Linked DNA regions of Homo sapiens: region 1 is linked to region 2. The links come from fine-mapping of genetic effects on gene expression. Tissue or cell type: whole blood. Region 2 holds a variant in brackets; the other region holds the start of a gene. All regions are shown on one strand. Distances are between the middles of the regions.

Region 1 (8,161 bases), 220 kb after region 2:
TAAAAAAAAAAAAAAGATGAATCATTCTTGCTCAGATGGGATGATCAGAAATCCAGCTGCCTAATCACCTTTTGCTCAGAAAAGTTTCTGTGGCCTGGGTTCTTTCAGCAAGCAGGTGAATGCAACAGAATCTTTGAGATAACTGAAGCTTCCTTCTTTGACTAGCAATATTCAGGTAGAAATGTTTCTAGAATTCTAAAGTTTTTTTTTTTGTTTTGTTTTGTTTTTTGAGATGGAGTCTCGCTCTGTCGCCCAGGCTGGAGCGTGGTGATGTGATCTCGGCTCACTGCAACCTCTGCCTCCTGGGTTCAAGCGATTCTTCTGCCTCAGCTCCCTGAGTAGCTGGGACTACAGGCATGCCCCACCGTGTCCTGCTAATTTTTGTATATCTATATTTACATTTTTTTTTTTTTTAGTAGAGACAGGGTTTCACCATATTGACCAGGCAGGTCTCAATCTGCTGACCTCGTGATCTGCCCACCTCAGCATCCCAAAGTGCTGGGATTACAGGCGTAAGCCACCACACACGACCTAAAATCTTAAAGTTTTAAACACTCTTTTTGAGGCTATTACTTCACCTTCCCCAGGTGGCTTTATGAGCGGAGTCTGCAGTGCCTGCTTCCAAGCTATGAGCCTCTGCCCTGCACTTCATGGTGCTCTGCTGGCTCTGGCATTGGCAGTTTAAAGAGTTTTAGAGAAAGGGTATTATCAAGGGCACTAAGGGCCCAGTTCAACATTCATTTTAAAGGACTGTAATCTTTACAAGGCTCCAGGTTTTCGTTTTCCTCTAAACTGGACAGTGAATTTCCTGAAGACAGACATTCTAAAAATCCTTCCTCTCCTTCATCTGTGTATCCCTGCTCTCGCATATTCAGTGGCCATGTGAGAACTGAGTGCGCGGAAATGTTTGGGGACCACCTTTCTGCTGGAGGGTTTGAAGTCATGTAACCCTGCTTTTTGTCAGAAAGTTGTTAGGGTGTTGGCAACAAATGTAGAGTTAGAAGAACTCCAATCAACAATTCCTTCTCTTTTCTCCTCTCTTCCACACACTTCTTCCTCTTCCCACCAGCTGCGAGAGAGCGGACCTCACTGCTTCCTGAGATGCTTCCCACATACAACCCTTCCAGCAGGTACACCCCAGGATCCCGTATCAGGAGACACTCGCTCCCCAGCTTCTGGAGCCATTGGTCTGAAGGATTATGCCAGCATCAGAGTCCCTTGCCAGAACTGTCTCCACCAACGGGAGATGTCTCAAAATTACAGCCCTCCCCTGTGGTCAGGTCACATCGAGGGACTGTTTGATGTGGGAATTCCAAGACCTGCACCTACTTCAGGACAACTCTGAAGAGCTATTTTAGTCCCAGAGCTCTCAGTGGGACTTCTTTTATGGCTGCAGCACAGCCCGGCTTCTCTCTGCCAACCCCACTGCCTTCCTCTCTTGCTCGTCTTTTTGCCAAGAGCACTTCTCAATAAACTCCCCTGCACACACATTTCTAATCCTGTCTCCCCCAAAAGCCAACTTCAATCAGTGAAGCACCAAGTTGGACCACCTTCAGCCCCTGTCTCAGCACATAGGCAGTGCTCAGTAAGTGTTCATCACAAGACTGGACTCCTCTTGCACCCACCTTTCTTGCTATTATGACAACAGGTGAATAAGTCACCCAGGCAGAGTTAACCAGAAGAAGTTGGGAGTTGCTGGGAAAATGGATGCTAAATCATCCTCAAACCTAATCAGCAACAGAGTCTCCAAGCCCTTGGGGCCATGAGAATTTGTATGGGCAACCAAAGTGAACCTCTGTGAATGATAGAGATGACCACACATTTCTTGACCCTCTCCATCAAAATGAAGGGTCTCTGCCCCCTCCCTTTGAGTCTGGGTGGAGGAACTTGTGAATGCTTTGAGCAATGGAAGATGGCAAGTAATGCTGTGCCTGTTTCCAGACCCAAAACTTGAAAGATTGGCAGCTTCTAATTCCTGTCTTTTGGAATTCTCTCTGGGATTCCTAAGCTGCCAGGTAAGAAAGCCTACTACCCAAGATAGCCATGTGTGGGCACTCTGATGGCACTCCCAGATGAGCCAACCCTCTAGCCATTCCCTCACCCCTAAGGTGCCAAATATGTGAGTGAAGCTGTTTTTGTCAGTCCCAGATCCATCAATCCACCATCCGAATACCACCTCCTAACCTCGGTCACTCCTACATGGAGAAGAAGAATCACCAGCCAGTGTTCGAACAAATTTTTCACCCATAAAATCATAATACAACAAATGGTTATTATTGTAATTTTTGATGCAGCAATAATAGAAAAACCAGAGCAACCCCATCCTGAAATCTCCCCAACACCTCCTTCTTACCCTCTATGACCTCACTGGGAACAGGGCAGAGAAAGGAATGTGTACCTCCTGTCCATTTTACTGAAGTGAAGGTCCAAGGATCTCAGCCCTGACAACTTGCCCAAACTCAAACATTTAGTTTGCAATGAGCCCAGAAGTAAAACTGATTTCATCTGAGCTTTTCTCAAGTGTATTTCCATTTGATGGGCAGTAGGGTTTTGTTTTGAGAAAAATGAAAAGGTGGCAAATAGTTATTTAAGGAAACCAAATACTGGGGGAGGATGATCTCCCAGGCATGGTTCAAAGGACCACACACCTCTGCCTTCAGGTCTCTGGAAAATAGTCTTGGGGAATCTGGGTCTTAATTAAAACAAGACTTTGGAGGCTGGGCGCGGTGGCTCATGCCTGTAATCCCAGCACTTTGGGAGCCAAGGGGGGCGGATCACGAGGTCAGGAGTTCGAGACCAGTGTGGCCAACATAGGGAAACCCCATCTCTACTAAAAATACAAAAAATTAGCTGGGTGTGGTGGTGTGCATCTGTAATCCCAGCTACTCCGAAGGCTGAGGCAGGAGAATTGTGTGAACCAGGGAGGCAGAGGTTGCAGTGAGCTGAGACTGCACCATTGTACTCCAGCCCAGGTGACAGTGCGATAATCCATCTCAGAAAAAAAAAAAAAAAAAAAAAAAAAAGGACTTTGGAAGTAGAGATGCATCTCCTAACATGTACAATGACCTGAGGCCATGATTTTGAGGAAGTAGGACAAATTCAGATATATTTCCATATTGTCTCCAGAAACAATTCCTAAGTGTCAGAATCTGTGTCCAGATTTTCCATTTGCAGCATGTAGCCATCAGACTTATCCTAGAGTTATTTTCCTGGCTTCTCAAGCTAGGATTGTATTTTGAGGTCTGCTCATTGAACAATTACTTACTACTCAGAGTTCTGAGTCTATGTGGCTCCATGGACTGTACCATCTAAATGCCACCACTATTATGAGAATTCCCATGTTATGAGAGCTACAATGTGAATATCAAAGATCTTACCTTACTTCCTGCTCTCATCCAAAAAAAACAAACAAAAAAAACCTCTTGGAAATAAAACACTTCATTAACAGATGAGCCAAGAAGCCATATCAACGCTCAGCGTCTCCAGGTGATCGCCAAATCTGGATTCTCTGAGAGACGGAAGGAAGCTAAGATGGTTGAGTCCTTACTGTGTGCACATGCCACAGATTTACATGCATGGTCACAATTTCCATGGTATCCCTATGAGATGGGTCTCACTCACTTCAGTTCACCAATAAGGACACAGAAGCATGGAGAGGGTTAAGTACATTGCTCCAGGTTTCCACAGCCAGTAGGAAATGGGAGAGAAGGGTAGGAGGAGGGCAGTGATTCAAACTCAGATGTGTTTATATGAGGTCAAAGCCCATGAAAAGCAGTAAAAATTTCAGACTAAAATAGCCTGAAATAATAGTTACCTATACAAGAAGAAAAAATTCCAATCGCCAATGAGGTGGAAGAGTTTTATGCCCAATTTAAACTAGTATGCTTTTTATTCACATAGATGTATGTAGTGTCAATGTCTACTCTTAGACTCCACATTTCTCTGTGTCAGTGAGGTTACTGGTGCCTTACCTGGAATCTTACAATTCTTGATTTAATAAAATATGTGATTTATTACGCAAGCAAAGTACTGGATCCCATTGTTATGTCTACATAGAAAATACAAAAATATTTATTTGCATACCTACACAGGTGTGCCCATTCGAGAGGCTGGGCCTGGACTGGTCATCGTTGGCTGGAGAGGCCGAGGACTGAAGAGACAGGAGCAAGAATAGAGGCGCCACCGTAAGGATTTTCCAGGGGGACTGCATCTCCGAGCTATGCACCCCAAGTGATCACCCGGCTTTGGAAGCTCCCAACTGAGGGATGCTGGAGCTGAGGCTGCAGAATCAATTGATCTCTCTCTCCTTCTCTTCCTCACTCTCTTTGACACACACACCCCACCCTCTCACATACACACTTTTCAATAAGTGTGAAGTGAATAAAAGCACACATAAACACTCACAGACCCACAGCTTGCTCTTGTTGGACCCTGAGAGAGCCACACACAAAGAGCTGGAGGGAGTCTGTGGTGTGCGGTTCTGCTGAGGTAAAGACTGCAGGATAAAGAAAACCCAAGTTGCACAGTGGCACAACTTCCGTGCTCCCTGGCTCAGTGAAGTTAGTGTGCATAAACCCCGTGAGCCTCGAGGCTTGCCGGAACTGATCTGTTGGGTTGGTTAGGAGGCCCTTCCCCTTTCATTCTTGCAAAACAAAACAAAACGATACTAAAGCCAAAACTGAGAAGAAAAAAGAAAAAAAAAACTAATCCACAAGCACACAACCCTTTAACAATTTGATCAGCAGCACCCACATATTGTAGAAATTCTAATTGGTTACATTCAGAACTTACTTAGTCTTGTTTTCAACAGCTTTATATGGTAAGGTTGTGATCCTTATTTTGTTGTAAAAGGATATTCTGGTCAAATAATATCTTTCCTCTGGAGAAATTGGGTTATTCCTTGAAGGGTCAAGGCCTTTTATTTGGTGTGCAGAAAATAAACAGTACAGAAAATAATGGGCAGTTAGCATGGTGGGATTTTAGACCTAATGAGAAAAAACATGGGTTAGAATTAATCAATTCACAGTTGCTAGGCTGTGCACAATGCATCTTTTTTTTCTCCAGAATTTCGAAGTGCATTTTGTGGATGATTTGTTAAGAGACTGATTTTCTGCTCTGAAGAATAGAACTGAACACTGTCTTTCTGAGGGAAAAAAAAAATCGGAACCAGATCATAGATAAAAGACATATAATCTAAATGTTTCTCTCTAAAATAAGATAAAACAAAATCATATGCCATTCTCAGTCAAGATAAGAGGACAGGGCCAAAGTACCACAGTCTAGGTAAGTGTAGGAGGTCATGAGATTCTGTTTCTCTCTGCTTAGGCTCTGAGGGAGCTTATTACAAATTTTGAAATATTATAGAAGCTATCTAAATTGTTAGCAATTAAAAAAAATAGCATTTGGAGTAGCAGGCAAAGTTTTAGAGTAGCATCCTTTCCAGGATGTAGGAAATACCAGTTTTTATGGTTGGAAGATTTCTTGTGCAGTCATTAGTCTTACAAGCACCGATGGGGCTACAATTCCCAAACCTGCTGCAGAGATAGCACAAGTCAGAGTGTTTCCCTAATTACACTTCCAGCCCAATACTGAGGATATCGTTAGGCGTCCATGGGCCTGTGACTTCCTCTGACTCTAAGGTGCTGCTGCTTCAGTTCTTCACTCTGTGACTAAGGGGAGCTCTGGGGTCACTAGGACCACCACAGGGGTGAGGCCTAGAGAAGTTCCAGAGACTTCCAAGGGAGGCTAAATAAAGGACTGATTGATTAGGAACTCAGATTGTGAAGACAGAAAGGCTCATGCTTACGTCTCATGTCTACTGTTTATTCTGAGTAATATATTAGACCAGTGATGTAACTTTCCCCCCTTCAGTGTCTTGTTTTTGTTGTTGTTGTTGTTGTTTGTTTGTTTTTTGAGACAGGGCCTTGCTTTTTCATCCAGGCTGGAGTGCAGTGGTGTGATCACAGCTCACTGCAGTGTTGACCTCCTGGGTTCAAGTGATCTTCCCACCTCAGCCTCCCAAGTAGCTCATTTCTATTGGGATAATGGTAATATCCGCTCCAATGCGCTGCTGGAAGCACTCGAATACATGATGTATCCAAACAACAAAGCAGCATGGCTGGCAAGAAGTAAGTGCTTAGTGCATCTGTCTATGACTCTAGCAGGAGTGTGATGAAACCTGCACCCCAGACCAGCTTCAAGAGAATTCCAAGACGCCCATGGTAGTTGTAGGCCATCATGTCATACATGGGAAATGGTGAGGACAGGAAAAGGGAGGATTTATTGAATACCTTCCAGCTGTGCTACAGCACTCCAGGAGTGTGTGGTCTAGTTTGTCTAATCCATAAATGGGTGAGGACTCTCCTGAGGGCTTCTGGAAGAGCATTTGACACAGGCTTTGGGCCTCTTGAGGCTCTCCTGGTCTCAATGTATAGCTGCGAGCAGGTCTGGAAACTCTTAGAGTGAGAGGGATTTCTTGGTATGCCGGAAATGCAAGTTTTGTGCCCTTCATCGCATGTATGTGGGCCAGGCAGTGCCATTCACAACCATCCCAGGGATGGTCGGCTCTGAAACTCTCTAGTGTGCTCAGGCTTCGGGGCTGGTCACAGTGGGAGTCGCTGACTTAGCTGTGCAGTATTGAGCAAGCCCCTTCCTGTTTCCAGAGGTGACAGTCCTCAGCTAGAAAAGGGAGGTGAGACTATCTACTTCGTAGGAATATATCATGGTAAAACCTGACACATAGGTTTTCAGTAATGGAAGGATTTTTCATGCTTGGAGGGTGAGTTCTTACTGGGCATGATCAAAGGAAGAATGCAGAAATCAGAAAGTGATTTCGCCAGCAGAAGCTGGAACAAAGTGCACGTGTGCACAGACCACTGAACAAAACATCCCTCTCCGTCACCAGGATGGAGTGGACCCTCCCATTTGCACAGTTGTCCTTCACACTGGCTGGTATCATTGCCCCTGACAGGGCTGCCTTTGCTCATCAAGTACTGAGTGCAAATGACTTGGGATCTTTGCACAGCTTGCCAAAAGGCCCTGGACCTACCTGTGGTTTAGAACAACTAGTCAGGCCCTGGAGAATGTTCCTGCAGGACCCCACTGTCAGATGTTCCAATTTTGAATCATCTCGAAATCTGCTCTTGAAAATGAGATTTCTTCCCTGAAGCACTTTGTTACTGATTTCACTCAAACAGCTCTGATTCAAACCACTGCTTTCCCCTGTGCCATGGAAGGCTAAGGCTTTGTGATCCCCAAGTGTTGCACCTGTGGTCTGCTTGTTCAGTATGAATATGCTTCCTGAATATTTTTTGACCACATTGGCCTCAACCACCTCATCCACAGCAAGTTCCTTAATCAGAAAAAAAAAAAAAAAAAAAAGAGGTGGGTGATGGGAGATCCTGTAAAAGCTGGCACTGTCACCAACACGTGTCTCGTCTTAGACTTTCTCCTCTCTCTAAGGCCCAGGTCCATGCTGCCCTGTTACTCCTGGCTGCCCAGGACTGTGTACAGCAGTCCTCAGTTCCCATCTACCAAAACCAGGCCCTCTGCTGCTCCCCTCCTCCTCAGTCAGAGCTTATTAACGCTAGCCTCATTCTATTCTGTTCTGCTGTCTGCTAAGGACAGGGTAAATTAACCCATGCTGAGGATGCATGGGGGCTCATTAAAAGAGCTCTGGGCTAGGATGGGGGGCCTGTGTCATGGGCTCCCCTCCTAGTAGCTGTGTGCCCTGGGTAAGCTGCTCCACCTTTCAGAATACCAGTTTATTTTACTATAGAATAGGGCATATAATGTCAATATTTAAGAAAATTGTGAGAATTAGAGAGACAACATGAATTTAAAAACATAATATTAACTGTTAGATGAATGTGAAGCTGACAATGAATTCACATTATTCTTCTCAAGTAGCATTGAAATTTTGGGGGAAGTTTTTTAAATCAAGATTTTAAAAATTGCTACATAATAACTGTACATATTTCTGGTGTACATGTGACATTTCAATACGTGCATGCAATGTGTAATGATCAAATTAGGGTAATTAGGATATCCGTCATCTCAAATATGTATCATTTCTTTGTCTTGGAAACATTTAAAATTCTCTTTTCCAGCTATTTTGAAATATACAATGAATTGTTGTTAACCAAAGTCACCCTACTGTGCT
Region 2 (8,161 bases):
TGATTGGTGCATTTTTAGAGTGCTGATTGGTGTATTTACAATGCTTTAGCTAGACACAGAGTGCTGATTGGTGTGCTTTTACAGAGTGCTGATTGGTGCGCTTTTACAGAGTGCTGATTGGTGCATTTACAAACCTTTAGCTAGACACAGAGCATTGATTGGTGCGTTTTTACAGAGTGCTTATTGGTGCGTTTACAAACCTTTAGCTAGACAGAAAAGTTCTCCAAGGCCCCACCTGACTCAGAAGCCCAGCTGGCTTCACCTCTCAGAAGGAGTCCGTGGCAACATGGAGTCCTGTCTGAGCCCTGCACCACCCACCACTGGGTGTCCTTTATGTGAGAAAAATAGCCTTTCTTTTTTTTAAAGAAAAACCCATCATTACTCTGGATTGTACCCATAAGCAGTAGAACCTAACCCTAAAGACACTTATGTCCTCCAGTAGACTAGGAGTGTGTCGGTATGTTTCCCTCTATGACAACCATGCGGGAGCTGGATCTTGAAGAAGGAGTGTTCCAGTTTCCTGGAGGAAACAGCCTATGGAAAAGCATGGAGCTGTGAGAGGGAGGGCCTTTTATTCAGTTCACTGTTGCTGCATAAAACCCCCCTCGGAAACTTAGAGGCTTGAAACAGGAAGAGTGCATTATATCCCATGGTTCTGTGGGTTGGCTGGGCTCGAGCTGGACTGGAAGTCCAAATGCTCATTCATACTTTTGAGGCCTCAATGTGGGCAGAGGTACCTCAGTTTTTTTCCATGCAGCCTTTCTCCTTCACGTGGTGTGTCATCCCCCAGGGTTTCTCTTGCAGGAGTGCAGCCTGGACTTCCCCACATTGATAAAGGAATTAAGAAAAAAATCACTTAGGCAGATAGTAAGGGTATGGGAGTCCTCGGTAAGTCTTTTCTCTCTAATGAAAAGCAGCGCCAACTCATTTTATAACAGAGCAGCCTGTAAAGTCTAGCTGCAGACATAGACAAGCAAGCTGGGAGCTTGCATGGGTGAATGCTGGCAGGAACTGGGGACTAGACATGTTCAAGATGGCAGCTCCATCTTCCCTTCTTCGTCAGCCATGTGTACAGTAAAGAGCAGACAAGATGGCGCTGATCAACTAAAAAGTCCATCTGAATAATACGATTAGGGTGGGGTGACCAGCCTTCCACACTATGTAAGCATCATACCTGATAGAACCAATCTGTGAGCCCTAAGTAAATCAGACACAGCCTTCCCCAGCCTGCTTATAAAATCTGCTGCAGTCTGCTGCCTCCCTGCTTTTCAGATGCCTTTCTCTCTCTCTCTCTCTTTCTCACAGGGAGCTGCTTTCCTGTCTCCTTTCTTCTATTAAACTTTCCACTCCTTAACCCACCCACATGTGTTCATGTCCTGAATTCTTTCTCAGGGAGAAACAATGAATGCCAGGTATATACCCCAGACAATGTAGCCGTTTCAACATGGTGGCTGTGAGATCTAAAAGGGTGCAGAGGGCAGCTTCACCTCCTAAGGGCAAGGCCTGGGTGTGGCAGTCTCACTTGCATTTCCTTCTCTGGGCCAGCCCAGCTTCAAGGGGTGGGAAAGATGCCGCCTCTTGTTGGAGGAGAAGCAGGCACACGCAGGAGGGTGGCCATTTTTGGCAGCCAGCTTTGGAGACTTACCTACTGCCCATGTTTTGTAATGACAAGCTTCCTGTGACTGGGATGCAGGATCAAAGAAGAAATGGGCGGGAGAGAGAGCCTGGAGAGACATGGACTCTGCAGGTGACGAGTTTGGAGTTTACGCTACAGACAAAGCTGACTCTAGCACATGTGGTGGTCAGATCACATCCTGGTTATAATGATGCTAAGAGCCACTGTTGATTCACCACTCAGCATGTTTTACATACGTCATCTTCTTAATAAATGCAGGATAGCCTAGCAGCTAGGGGCAAGGACCCTGGAGCCAAATGGCTTGCCTTCAACATCATAACTCATCACATTATTGTTATTGAGACAGGGTCTCACCCTGTTGCCCAGGCTGGATTGCAGTGGTGCAATCATTGAAATGGGCTCAAGCGATCCTCCTGCCTCAGCCTCAGCCTCAGCCTCCTGGGTAGCTGAGAATATAGGTGTGCACAACCATGCCTGCCTGACTTTTTATTTTTGTGCAGGGCCCTCACCATGTTTTCCAGGCTGGTCTCAAACTCTTGGGCTCAAGCGATCCTCCTGCCTTGCCCTCCCAAATTGCTGGGATTGCAGGCATGAGTCACCATGCATGGCACCTGACTCATCACGTATTAGCTGTGCAGTCTCAGGCAAGTTACTTAATTGTTCTCGGCCTCCTATCTGTAAAAGTAGGGAATCATAGCAGACCTGCCACATGTGGTTGCTGTAAGGGTTAAGTGAGATCATATATGCACTCTACTTGTCACTTACCCCTCTGTAAGCATTAGCTCTTGTTAATGCTCACAACAGTGCTGGAAAATGGTACTATTGCTCCCTTTTTAAGGAGAAGGTAACTGAGGCACCAGGAGCTTAAGGCTTCCAAGGCCTGTTGCTTCATGAATTCCCACTGATTGTGTTTCCATGTGTCCCCAGCTCCAGGAGGCAGCTGAGCAGAATTGCATTCTTTCCATGAGACTTACACGAGCCTGGAGTCTCTACCTGTCCCTGAAGAGTCCTTTGCTCCCCTACAGCCTCACTCAACCTCCTGGCTCCAACTGATATTTGCAGAAAATCACTGTAATAATATTAACAGCTGGGGGCTTTTCTGAGCCTGTACAAAGTGTGCATCTTGGAGGGCAGAGTCCTTAGGTGAAACTGAAAGTCTTTGGGGTCTGAAGCTGCCTTGAGCCTGGACAGGTCATGGAAGCCCTTGGTGCATCCTCTCAGCCGTCTTTCTGCTGAGGTTTATTGACTGGAGCTTTGTGAACCTGTGAGTTACATTAGCGCTCTGAGGCTGGAAGTCTTCCTGTAAATGCTCCATGTAATTAATTATAAACAAAGCAGCAAGCCAGGAGCACAATACCCAAATAAATCCTTAGCGAGCCTCAACATGTGCTCTTTATTTCTCCTCTGCCTTTCCATCCATCCAAGAGCTTCAAA[G/C]TGTAATCCTCCTTAACGACAGGTTCATGATGATGAGGCCATTATTTTTGATACTGCAGTTTTAAGAAGTGACCCAGAAAACAGGCTTTACAAGCAACCTCTCCCCATTCCCCTTTACCCTAAGCAAAGGCCCAGATTAAAAGAGCCTTAGCTTGTACGAATATTTATGCTAGAGCCTCTGCCAAATCAGATTAGGGGAGTTCATCCCGCCAGGCAAACACGGGTTCTGTACTCAGATTTAATGAGAAACTGACATGTTAATAGCATATTGATGCATCCATCCATCAGGAAATCCATATAGCACAGTGAATGTGCGCCATGCATCTTGGGGCCCAGGAGAGATGCTGTCTTTGTCACTTTTGGTTCCACCAGGAAAGCTGTTGTTGCAATGAAAGGGATTCCAAAGACATTCTGCCTCACACCAAAGATGAGAGGTCGGGAATTCTGGTCTTAAAATACCTGGGAAATCCCTTTCTTGACACTGCCAGGGAGTGTGTGAGACAGAGGCTAATTCCTCTAAACAACATCTTCCAAGGTGCTTCTGAAAAAGCAGATGCCACAGAGTGTTAATAGGCATCATGAGAACAAAAAGCTTAGGTCAAAATCTTGGGTAAATGATGAGCGGAGCAGAGTTTTTTGGTTTTTTTTTTTTTTTTGAGACGGAGTCTCACTCTGTCACCCAGGCTGGAGTGTATTGGCGCGATCTCGGCTCACTGCAGCCTCCGCCACCCGGGTTCAAGCGATTCTCCTCCCTCAGCCTCCGGAGTAGCTGGGATTACAGGTGCGCACCACCACACCCAGCTAAATTTTGTATTTTGTATTTCACCATGTTGGCTAGGATGGTCTCAATCTCCTGACCTCGTGATCCGCCTGCCTTGGCCTCCCAAATGCTGAGACTACAGGGGTGAGCCACTGCACCCGGCCCAGACTTTTTTACTGTAGAATTTTCACCCTGTGACTTTCCAGGAAGCAAATAAATTATGCTGTGCATCCAAACTTTTCAGACTTTGGAGTTCTTCCTTCTCAAAGCACCCCCACCCCACCCACAGCGCATACATCCTTTTTGTGCCATGCAGCCCCTTGGCAGTTTGGGGAAGCCTGAGGATCCCTTCTCAGAATAACATTTTCATTTTATTTTATTTTAGACACGGTCTTGCTCTGTCAACAGGCTGCAGTGCAGTGGCAAGATCATGGCTCACTGCAGCCTTGAACTTCCAGGCTCAAGCCATCCTCCCGCCTTAGCCTCCTAAGTAGCTGAGACCACAGGCATGTGCCACTATGCCCAACTAATCATTTTGACTTTTGGTAAAGACGGGATCTCACTGTGATATTCAGGCTGGTCTGGAACTCCTGAGCTAAAGCAGTTTTTCCACCTTAGCCTCCCAAAGTGCTGGGATTATAGGCGTGAGCCACTATGCCCAGCCAGAATAACATTTTTAAATGCAAAAAAACAAAACATGTAGGATTACGAAGAAAACCAATTCTATTGAAATAGAATATCAAAGAATATTTTGAGATATTCACAAATGAGCATATATAAATATATGGGCTTCTTTTTGAACGTGTTAATAACCAGATCCAGAGTTGGTTCTAATAACTACAGTTGTTTTAAGGTATTGATGTTTTAAAGTATAAGATATAGTTGATCGGCATCGTTCACTGATCACATATTTGTGAATTCACCTCCTTGCTAAAATTTATTTGTAACATTAATGTATACTTGTGGCGCCTTTGCAGTCATCTGTGCCCATGCACAGACCAATGACAAATTTGAGTTGCCCAACTGGCATGTTCCCCAGATGAGATTGGTTGGCAAAGTGAAGTTTTGCCTTTTTTTTTTTTTTTGAGACAGAGTTTTGCTCTTGTTGCCCAGGCTGGCATGCAATGGCATGACCTCGGCTCGCTGCAACCTCTGCCTCCCAGGTTCAAGTGATTCTCCTGCCTCAGTCTCCAGAGTAGCTGGGATGCCAGGCACACACCACCACGCTCAGCTAATTTTTGTATTTTTAGTAGAGACGGTGTTTCCCCATGTTGGCCAGGCTGGTTTCGAACTCCTGACCTCCAGGTGATCCACCTGCCTCGGCCTCCCAAAGTGCTGGGATGACAGGTATGAGCCACTGCGACCGGTCAAGTTTTGCCTTCTTGTTTCAGCTCTCATACTGCAAACCTGTGTCCTCTTCGCAGTATACTTAGTGCCACATTTTTGGCATTTCATGCTTTTTCCCGGTGATGTTGCTGTTTAAAATGGCCATGAAGGGCAGTGCTGAAGTGCTAGCTAGTGCTGCTAAGTGATGTGCCACAGAAGACTGCAACGTGCCGCACCAAGAAAATCACCCCAGTGGTAGATGAGCTCTTTGCAGGCAGGAGTTACAGTGCTGTTGCCTGTGCGGTCAATGTTAATGAATCCACTGTATATTAAATACGGTGTCTTTTGAACAAAAGCCACACGGAAAACAGTTATATATTGATTGGTTGGTGAAAATGTTGAGACTGCAGGCTCACAGGAACCTAGCCTTGTACTTCCCCTAAGGACAATGGTTCAGCATGTGCTAATTCAGTGTTCATGGCAACTTTATAGAACATAACTGCTACAAAAAATAAGCAACAGTAACTGCAACAACTGCAATGTGATGTGAAAATATTTGTGACAAGGACTAATTCAGCTGTGTTTTGTTACCTACATTCATTATGAAAGGAAATGCTAAATTTTAGCATTAGCATTTAGAAGACAGTGAAGACTTATTTTTTTTCCCATTCAAGTTTACAGGCACTATTAATTCTGGGGATCCCTAAGGACCCTAGTTAAGAAAATTTTCTCAGTTGGATTAAATCAGTGACAGAGCAGGGAGGGATTGGGAAGCTGGTGCGGATTCTGGGGAGATTCAGGTCCGGTCACATTGTGTATCAATACAAGTCCCATATAGAGATTTTTAGCTGATCTGCTTTTTCTGGGGGGCTGACTTTATTTTTGTCACCAGGGCCTGAACCCAAAAGGCTCAGCATGAAATGAAAAATGCTCATGGTGGGTGGAAATAGAAATTTTGGTAATTACTCATGTGGCAAATAGTGAGCTCTATTTCAATAGTGTAGGGCAAGCCAGGTCTCTCCTCTGATAACAGGAGAGAGTATCTGTTTCTTTTTTTTTTTTTTTTTTTTTGAGACAAGGTCTCATTCTATCCCCCAGGCTGGAGTGCAGCGGTGCAGTCTGGGCTCACTCCCTCGACCTCCTGCTGGGCTCAAGTGATCTTCCCAAGCAGCTAGGACTGCAGGTGTGTGCCACCACACCCAGCTAATTTTTGTTTTTTTTTTTGTTTTTTTTTTTTTGTAGAGACAGGGTTTCACCATGTTGCCCAGGCTGGTCTTGAACTCCTGAGCTCAAGTGACCCTCCCACCTCCGTCTCCCAAAGTGCTGGAATTATAGGTGTGAGCCACAGTGCTCGGCTGGGAGACAGAAATTATAATAGAGTTTTGGGGTATTTAGATGAAGATCACATAAGAGCCCCAAGTCCCCTCACCAAGTGTGCCCAGGGAAGAAGGCGCCTCTGATGGCTTTTCTTTCTCACTCTTCTCACCGTGATGAGCGAGGAGCGTGATTCAATGGGTCTAATTCAAATGTGTCAAAAAAGAGGCTGCTGATTTTACTTTTAAATAGCAAGAAATAACAGTGTGACCTGGAGAGCAACACTAACTTCTCATTCACTCATTCATTCAGTGCTATTTCTTGTGCGTCTGCAGTGGTCAGGCATTGTGTTGGGGGTTGGACACAGGAGTACACATGACCGGCCAGGTACCCATCTCATGGAGCCTGCAGTTCAGGTTCCGGTGCTTTTTTCCACAGCCCCTCCAGGAATGGGGAGATGGGGAGGGCAGCATGCCAACCCAGGAAAGCCCTTCAGGTGCCTGTCAGTGGACAATCCTCAGACACCATCATTCTGGAAAACTCAAGGCTGAAGACAGTAGCTCAAGGGGCACCTGTGCAGCAATACGGGATAGGTGCTGTTATAAGAAGTACGCAAAGCACAGGGACGGCATTCTCAAGCCAGAGAGAAAGACTTGGTCAAATCTCAAAGAAGGAACGTGTCTGGAGCATAGAAAATGCAGGCAGAAGTGAATGAGCCTTGCCCGGGCACCTGATCCAGGGCAGAGGGCCTGACCTCAGACTCCAGTTTTGCAGGCAATAGTGGTATTTAGTAATGATTTCCATGTGGTATTTATTTGCAGTATTTGTGTTTTCTGAAAAAGTGAGATGGGGTCAACGTCCTCTTCCACCCCTCAGTTCCTTGGTGCTGTGCCTCAGAGTAAGGTCAAAGCTCAGGATTTGGGTACCTTTGTTTTCCCACCTGAGCCCATTCAAAAGATGGAACTGGTTAGATGTTAGGTGATTCCCCAAGGTTGTGAGTGGTCAGGCCTAAGAGAATTTAAACAGTCTTTTTTAGAGGGGTGGGAAGTGACAGGTTCAGAGAAGACATATAGGGTGGGAGAAGGGAGGTAGTCAGGCCGGGAGACCCTCCCTTTACTCTGGAGTCTTCCTGTACAGATTAAATAAGTGTACTTTGGGTATCTATCACCTTAAATATTTGTCTTTTCTGTATGCTAGAAACATTCAAATTATTTTCTTCTAGCGATTTGAAATGAAATGTACAATAGCATTTAGTAAACTATAGTCACCCTACTGATCTGTCAGACACTAGGCCTTATTTCTTTTATCTAACTGTACATTTATACCCACTAATCAACTAATAAAATACTTTAAAGGAAAAAAATTGTATTGTCATTTTTCTGGACTTTGTGAGGTTATATGGCACTTTGTCAACTTTTAAACATTTGTAATTTGTGGTGATTTCTTTCCTCATTCTAAATGTGTATTCAAGTTCATGTCTAATTTTGTATTTATAGTTTTGTGTTATGTTTTTCAAGGGGGCCTCATGAAGCCTGCTCTGCCCCCTTGTGTGAGTCCTTGGCAGCTGGCCAGCCGCCTGCATAGGAGGAAGCTCAGCTCGCCCGGCCATTTTAAAGAAGTCAGCAACACAGGGGGGATCAGTCCCCTGGCATGCCAAGACCCTGGGTAAATTGCTGAACATCGCTGGACTT

The links. PIP is the estimated chance that this variant, and not a neighbour inherited with it, causes the effect.
Region 1: it holds the start of AOAH, and the variant in region 2 is fine-mapped to the expression of AOAH in whole blood (INTERVAL, PIP above 0.99).

The regions. Positions count from the first base shown.
Region 1 is chr7:36,719,939-36,728,099 of GRCh38, forward strand. It overlaps AOAH (acyloxyacyl hydrolase), which reads right to left and starts at 4,556. Exons shown (of 21, transcript NM_001637.4): 1 at 4,084-4,556. The coding sequence starts at 4,210.
Region 2 is chr7:36,504,778-36,512,938 of GRCh38, forward strand. No RefSeq gene overlaps it. Among named protein-coding and RNA genes, the nearest start is that of AOAH-IT1, 91 kb to the right of the region's middle. RefSeq lists an enhancer at 582-1,781. The variant G/C (reference allele first, on the strand shown) is at 3,071.